Homo sapiens: one gene and its partner. The protein of the gene in region 2 purifies or fractionates together with the protein of the main gene of each other region. This does not show direct contact. Each region holds a gene or a part of one and is shown on either strand. Other genes may lie near its edges.

Region 1 (3,890 bases), on a different chromosome or scaffold from region 2:
ATAAATGCCAGGAAGAAAAATAGGCAGGAAAAGAAGACAGAGAGTACTGGGGATAAAGATGAAGGGGGTATAATTTTTAAACAGAATTGTCAAGAAGGACCTCATTGAAAATGTTACATATGAACAAAGAACTGAACAGGTTAGAAAGCAAATCATGTGGCTATGGGAAGAGGGGGTGCATTTTAACATTCAAGAGGGAAGAAGGAGCAAAAATCCTGAGGTAGGAGCATGGTTGACATGTTTGAGAAAAAGCAAGAAAATTAATAGGGTTGGAGCAAAGTGAACAAAGGGGAAAGTAACCGCAGATGAGGTGGGTTATCCAGTTGTGTAGGACCTTGTAGGGCACTGTAAGAACTCTGGATGGAAAGGAATGAAGTACTGATACATGCTACAACATGAATAAAAGAACATGTTAAGTGAAAGAAGCCTGACACAAAAGGCCACATATTATATGACTCCATTCCTATGGAATGTCCACAATGTCCACAAATCTAGAGACAGAAAATATATTAGTGGTTGTCAAGGGCTGAGGGAAGAAGGGAACAGGGAGTGACTGCTAATGGATAAAGGGTTTCATTATCTACAGTGATAAAAATGTACTACAGGCCGGTCACGGTGGCTCACGCCTGTAATCCCAACACTTTGGGAGGCTGAGGTGGGCGGATCACGAGGTCAAGAGATTGAGACCATCCTGGCCAACATAGTGAAACCTCGTCCCTACTAAAAATACAAAAATTAGCTGGGTGTGGTGGCACGCGCCTGTAGTCCCAGCTACTCGGGAGGCTGAGGCAGGAGAATCGCTTGAATCCAGGAGGCGGAGGTTGCAGTGAGCCGAGATCGAGCCACTACACTCCAGCCTGGTGACAGAGCAAGACTCTGTCTCAAAAAAAAAAAAATAAAATAAATAAATACTACAATTAGATAGTGGTAATGGTTGCACAGACTTGCAGATATACTAAAAAAAAGAAAAGAAAAGAAAAGAAAAAAAACACTGAATTGTACATTTTAAAAAGAGTGAATTATAGCTCAATTTGCAAAAAGAAAGAACTCTGTTGAGGTTGCAGTGAGCCACAGCCCAGCTTGGGCAACAGAGTGAAATCTTGACGCCCCCCGAAAAAAAAGGAATTCTGCATGGGTTAGCAAGCCAAAGAGTAGTTTTGTGCAGACAAATGACATTATCTGATTTTTATTTTAAAAATGTCACTCTAGCCTCTATAATATAATCTGTCTTGCATAATAGTTACCTCAATATATGTCGATGTCTTCCAACTAAATTAGAAGTTTCCAGAGGGCAGCATATTTATTTATATTCTCAGAGCACTTAACATTGTGTTTTACATATAGCTACTGCACAATAAATTTTGAATTAAACTGTAACCTTAGCAGTATATTTAACTCACTTTCCATTTACTTCCTGACTTTTCATTTGTCTTTTTTTTTAAGGTCCTAGAATTGAGGATCTACTCCTTCCTCGTTTCCATAGTTTACATCCAAGATCAAAGCAGCCTGTCATCCAACTAGTACAACAATCTCCCTAGGCTAACCTCTAATCCCTTCTCACAGCAAGACACTCTGTAACCAGAAGCAAGAACCTTCCTTTTCATCTTAACATTTTGATGCTATTTTCCTCTCAGAAACCTACAAGGGCTACCTATCCGTGACGTGTCAGCTTCTACCTTCTATCTCCCTTCCCCCAGCCATAGCCATCTCTCCATATTCCAATAATTAATCTACTTGCACCATCAAAACAGACTTACTTGCCACACTGCATAAAACCCAGCCCTGTCTCTGGTGTATCATACAGACCACTCTTTCCAAATGGAAAGCTCCTCTCTCAAACTTTTTTTTAAAACACCAAATCCATGTCCCATTTCTAGCCTTGATTCTTCTGTGAAGTCTCTTTACAGACTTGAGATTAGAATTTGATCTCACCATTCACTGAAAGGACTCTCTTTATAAGCTTACATACTTTTGTTGTTGTTGTTTTTGGTTTTTTGTTTGTTTGTTTTGAGACAGGGTCTCACTTTGTCGCCCAGGATGGAGTACAGTGGCACAATCTCAGCCCACTGCAGCCTCCACTTTCCAGGCTCAAGGCTTACATAGTTTAAATTGAATGTACATCCTAACACATTTTTGTGTGTGTCCTAAACTAACATAACTGTATATTTCTATTTTTCTTGAGTAAATGTTATTACAGTGATGTGTGTATAAGAAAAAACTGTGTCTTTCCCACACGGCTTAGACTAAAAAACATTTATAGGCACAGATCATACCCTTTCCTTCCTTTGCTCTCTGCCTTTAACAGTGTTCTTCTGCTTACAACTATGCAAACTCCCTTCACTTATCTCAAGTGAAATCAAGTGAGGAATTCACAAATAATAACTGCCTAAGGTTCTCTTCTTAGTACTCTAGGAAGAATTTTTTCTACCTACCTCATCTTTGCTGGTGTACTCCACTATTTCTGTGCACAGGTTGCTGCATTTGATGGTTCCCAGGTTCTGCTGGTTGCTCTTTCGATTACAGGAATCTTTGTAGAGCATATACGGGGTGCCTGTTTCCGTCTGAGACTCAATGATGGCATACCAAAGCTGCTGAGCTTTTACAACTTTGCGGACACGACCTTGTTTCTCATAACTGAAAGGCACAGATAATATTATTTAATATATATTCCCTAAAAAAACTTTATTGTAGACAACTTGAAGACATTAAAATATAAAGTTATGAAAACTCTTAAATTTTCTCTAAGTTTTGCTAAAGAAAAAAAGGAATATGATATTTATTTTACTCTAGCTAAAGCCATAGGGGAAAATGAGGCAGTTTTAGGTGCCTTCAGATGATCGCAATCCCACTAAACCAATAATATCTTTCATAATAAAAAGGAGTAAAAACTAAGGAAGCCAAATCTCTTAAGACTGTGCTAAATTTTTTTCCTTTTTTTTTTTTTGAGACGGAGTTTCGTTCTATCACCCAGGCTGGAGTGCAGTGGCACAATCTCAGCTCACTGCAACCTCCACCTCCCAGGTTCAAGCAATTCTCCTACCTCAGCCTCCCAAGTAGCTGGGACTACAGGTGTGCACCACCACGCCCAGCTAATTTTTGTATTTTTACTAGAGACAGGGTTTCACCATGTTGGCCAGGCTGGTCTTGAACTCCTGACCTCAAATGATCCACCTGCCTCATCTTCCCAAAGTGCTGAGACTACAGATGTGAGCCACTGCACCTGACCTATTTAATTTTAATAAACTACTGACATATGTGTCCTAGTCACTCATGATTCCTTTATGCAACATAAAGCATAGCTTATCAAAAGTACTATATGACAGAGCAAAATAATAACCCTACTAGTCATCTTAAATTTTAAAAGGATCAATTAAAAATCCCAAGAACCTATTTATACATTCCAAAGTTTTAAGAAAGAAGAAGACACAACTCAATTTTGGTGAAGAGTCAGGAAGCAAATCTGACCAAAATTATTAGTCACTTTTTCTCTTAGATGCTTCAAAAGATTCTTGACAAGTACTTTTGATATTTGGACCCCTGAAATAAGAGAAACCATGATTAAAACATTATTGTTTTCTTTCATATTTTTCCCATACCTTGCATATAGTTTCTCAAATTCCTCTCCCCAAACCTCATCCAGACCAGGACACTCATTTGGACACATCAAAGACCAGTCCTAAAAAGGAAAGGACAAAATCACTCATAAGAAACTTCAAATAGCCAACCATAATCCATTAGAAACACTGCAAGCATAAGGTGACTTTTACAAGCTCTCTTGGAAATTTGCTGTAGAAATAATCATTTTCAGGTTCAGGCCCAAACATCTAGGTCTGCCTGTTTATACATGACCTTTTAAGCATTTAGGTCACAAAGCATCTACTTTAGAGAAT
Region 2 (4,451 bases):
CCCTTGACCACATTCTCCAAGTCGGGGAATTCCTGGGCAAAGATCCCTTCCAGCTGGTAGTTATAGACCCAGGGGTAGGTGTAGGTCAGCTGCTTGCCTGGAGGACAAGGGGAGGAGGAAATGCAAGATCGTTCCAGGTTCTGGTCAGTAAACCCAGGACTCATCCTGTGTCCCTGACTCGACTTACCCATCTTCGAGAACTGAGCGAAGGGAAAAGACACACAGAGCAGGGTCTGCCCGTAGGTACAGGCGCTATGAGGCCAGCTGTATGCAGCAGAGGAGGCCGGTGGAGGGAAGTTAGGTACACTGTGGACCAGCCAGAAGCCCCCATCGTGGTCAAGGAGCAGGACACCTGGACCAAAAGAAGGCATTAGGGGAGGTCGGGCGCAGTGGCTCACGCCTGTAATCCCAGCACTTTGGGAGACCGAGACACACAGATCACCTGAGGTCAGGAGTTAGAAATCAGCCTGGCCAACATGGCGAAACCCCATCTCTACTAAAAATACAAAAATTAGCTGAGCGTGGTGGTGGACGCCTGTAATCCCAGCTACTCAGGAGGCTGAGGCAGGAGAATCGCTTGAACCCAGGAGGTGGAGGTTGCAGTGAGCTGAGATCCACCACTGCACTCCAGCCTGGGCCACAGAGCAAAATTTCATCTCAAACATAAGTAAGTAAGTAAGTAAATAAATAAATAAATAAATAAATAAATAAAAATTTAAAAAAAGAAGGCAGGCCCCACGCAGTGTAATCCCAGCACTTTGGGAAGCCGAGGAGGGCGGATCACCTGAGGTCGGGAGTTCAAGACCAGCCTGGCCAACATGGAGAAACCTCATCACTACTAAAAATACAACATTAGCCGGGCATGGTGGTGCATGCCTGTAATCCCAGCTACTCGGGAGGCTGATGCAGGAGAATCACTTGAACCCAGGAGGCGGAGGTTGCAGTGAGCCGAGATTGCACCATTGCACTCCAGCCTGGGTAGCAAGAGCAAAACTCCTTCTCAAAAAAAAAAAAAAAAAAAAGGCAATTAGAGGGTATTGCTCCAGGCCTCCCAGCAAGCTCATCTGCAATCAGGAACACCCTCAGTTTGCAGCGGGGCTTAGAGAGGGTGCCAGCAGTGTTAGAACCACAGCTGAGCTCAGTTTTTGCAGGCATAAATTCTTATAGTCCAGAATAACGCCAAGAGTAATGTAAGGTAGGGAAACAGGCCAGGTGTGGCGGCTCATGCCGGTAATCGCAGCACATTAAGAGGCCAAGGTGGGTGGATTGCTTGAACCAGGACTTAGAGACCAGCCTAGGCAACATGGCAAAAGCCCACTCTACAAAAATACAAAAAGTAGGCCAGGTGTGGTGGCTCACGCCTGTAATCCCAGCACTTTGGGAGGCCAAGGCAGGTGGATCACCTGAGGTCAGGAGTTCAATATCAGCCTGTCCAACCTGGTAAAACCCCATCTCTACTAAAACATACAACATTTAGCTGGGCATGGTGGCGCACACCTGTAATCCCAGCTACTCCAGAGGCTGAGGCAGAAGAATCGCTTGAACTGGGGAGATGGAGATTGCAGTGAGCTGAGATTGCACCACCGAACTCCAGCCTGGGTGATGGAGAGAGAGTGCCGCAAAAAAAAAAAAAAAAAAAAAAAGCCAGGCGTGGTGGGGGGTACCGGCAGGCCCAGTACTTGGGAGGCTGAGGTAGGAGGATCACCTGAGCCCTGGGAGGTCAAGGCTGCAGTGAGCTGTGATACTGCACTCCAGCCTAGGTGACTGGGTGAGACCTTGTCTAAAAGAAAATAAAATAGGGGAAATAGATGCCCAAGGTCTGACAGGGGAGATCTCCCACCCCACTATGGAGGTCAGGGGTTAGCTTGGAAAAATGCATAGGAACTCGGCTGGGCAGGGTGGCTCATTCCTGTAATCCCAGCACTTTGGGAGGCCAAGGCGGGTAGATCACTTGAGGTAGAAACCAGGAGTTCGAGACCAGCCTGGCCAACATGGTGAAACCTCGTCTGTACTAAAAATATGAAAATTAGCCTGGTGTGATGGTGCGCCTTTAATACCAGCTACTTGGGAGGCTGAGACAGGAGAATTGCTTCAACCCCAGAGGCAGAGATTGCAGTGAGCCAAGATTGTGCCACTGCACTCCAGCTTGGGTGACAGAGCGAACTCCCACCGTCTCAAAAACAAAGAAAAAAAAAAGTTGGGGGGAATAGATGCCCAGGGTCTGACAGTGCAGATCTCCCCGACCACCCCATGCACGTCAGGGGTTACCTTGGAAAAATGGGACCCGAGTCTCTCCCCAGCCCCCAATCCAGGCCTCACCCTTCGTGTGCCCACGCATGGAAGAGTCCTGAGCCTTGCTGGGTTGAGGCGGTTGGTCATTGTAGAGCAGGAAGGCGAGCTGCGGGCGGATAAACGGAGGCAACGTGAAATTCCTCCCAGGCAGGGCAGCCCTAGAGTTTCGCCCCTAGTTGGCCCGGGGCCCCCTTCACCTGGCTGGTGTTGCTCCGGTACAGCGGCTGCAGGCTTCGGCCCACGGCCCCCTCCGGGCTGTTGATGAGTGCCCTGCCGTCCCGCCAGCCTCCGGAGCTCTCGTCCAGATACTTGTACTGCAGCCCTCTCTGCGCCGCCTCCCCGGACCCTCTAAGAGCTGGCAGCTTGTAGACCACGAACCTGGAGGTCGGAGAATGCACAGAAATAGGAGAGAGGGAAGAGAAGGCACCCCAGGGTTCCCCGAGGAGGTAGCCATCCCGGTTGAGTGACCGCAGCCGGACCCCGGGGCGATGGTAGGCCCCCCGCTGCGCACTCACCAGTCTACAGGCTGCCCGGAGTCCCCGTAGCAGGTCAGGGCCCCGGCGGGGACGCACAGCAGCGCTGCCAGCAGCAGCGGGATCATAGCTGCTATGGGGCTGAGATCCAGGAATCTGTGTCGGGACTGCGGGGCGCTGGGTTACATCAGAGGCCAGGACTGGCACCTGGCGCCTTTCACTTCCCTAAACTTGCCTGGGAACCGGGGCGGGGACATCACGAGGGTACAGACTCCTCCCCCGAGACGCGATGCTGCGTTTTGGAGAGGCAAAAGGCAACGCTGAGTCTGCCCAGACCACGCCCACGACGGGCCCGGCGCTCCAGCGTCTCCTGGAGCCTGGCCACCGTTCCTTTTCGTGGTAGCTAATCCCAGCCCACGCTCTTCTGTCTGACCCAACTCCCGCCCGGGTTTCTGGATCAGGCACAAGTTTGTATTTTATTTTTTATTCCAGCCCTACAACCTGGGTCCAACTCTTGGGACCTTTGTTCTTCCTCTTTTTTTTTTTTTTTTTTTTTTTTTTTTTTTGAGACGGAGTTTCACTCTTGTCGCCCAGGCTGGAGTGCAATGGCACGATCTCGGTTCACTGCAACCTCCGCCTTCCTGATTAAAGCGATTATCCTGCCTCAGCCTCCCGAGTAGCTGGGATTACAGGCGCCCGACACCACGCCCGGCTAATTTTTGTAGTTTTAGTAGAGACGGGGTTTTTCCATGTTGACTAGGCTGGTCTCGAACTCCTGACCTCGTGATCCACCAGCCTCGGCCCCCGAAAGTGCCAAGATTGCAGAAGTGAGCCACTGCGCCCCTTAAGAAGCATTTGTGTTCCAGTGTATCTTCCCCTTTTTCTTTCTTTTTTTTTTTCCTTCCTTTTTTTTTTTTTTTTTTCCCGGACAATATCTCGCTCTGTTGCCCAGGCCGGAGTGCAGTGGCGCAATCTTGGCTCACTGCAACCTCTGCCTCCCCAGCTCAAGTGATCCTCTCACCTCAGCCTCCCGAGTAGCTGGGATCACGGGCACATGCCACTATGCCCAGCTAATTTTTGTAGTTTTTTTTTTGAAACACGGTTTCACCATGTGGCTCAGGCTGAACTCCTGAGCTCAAGGGATCCACCTGTCTTGCCTCCCAAAGTGCTGGGATTACAGGCATGTAATCCACGCCACCCAGACTCTCCTTTTTCATTCTGCACGTTTTCTCCAGGATCCCCTGAGCTAGCAAAGAGGTGACTGTATGTTTGTTTTTTGTCGTTTTGAGACAGGATAATGGTTTCTCACCCAGGCTAGAATGCAGTGACTCCATCACAGTTCACTGCAGCCTCAACCTACTGGGCTCAAGAGATCTTCCCAGGTAGCTGGTACTACAGGCCTGTGCCACCACACCCAGATAATTGTTCATTGCAGAGATGAGGGTCTCACTATGTTGCCCAGGCTGCTCTGGAACTCCGGGGTTCAAGTGATTCTCCCACCTCAGCCTCAAAGGATCATGGCAGGGCAAAGGGCTATGGGAATCTGAGTACTGGCTTGAAACTGCCTTTGCAAAAATTATGACAGAAAATTATGTCAGTGAAAGAGCTCTGACCTAACCAACTCCATCTTGCCTTTAATCTCCAAACTGCCCTTGCTTGGTCATTCCTGGAGTGGGGTCAAGCTAA

The links. Proteins that work in one complex are often made in the same cells at the same time.
Region 1: the proteins of DNASE2 (region 2) and RRM1 fractionate together in Homo sapiens (co-fractionation; one large-scale study listed by BioGRID). This does not show direct contact.

What each region holds. Positions count from the first base shown.
Region 1 is NC_000011.10:4,121,927-4,125,816, reverse strand, and holds part of RRM1 (ribonucleoside-diphosphate reductase large subunit), read right to left. Parts: intron 3,677-3,890; coding exon 3,597-3,676; intron 2,635-3,596; coding exon 2,433-2,634; intron 1-2,432. UniProt on the Homo sapiens protein: Provides the precursors necessary for DNA synthesis. Catalyzes the biosynthesis of deoxyribonucleotides from the corresponding ribonucleotides.
Region 2 is NC_000019.10:12,878,483-12,882,933, forward strand, and holds the start of DNASE2 (deoxyribonuclease-2-alpha precursor), read right to left. Parts: upstream 2,968-4,451; 5' UTR 2,894-2,967; coding exon 2,808-2,893; intron 2,671-2,807; coding exon 2,490-2,670; intron 2,399-2,489; coding exon 2,320-2,398; intron 353-2,319; coding exon 188-352; intron 98-187; coding exon 1-97.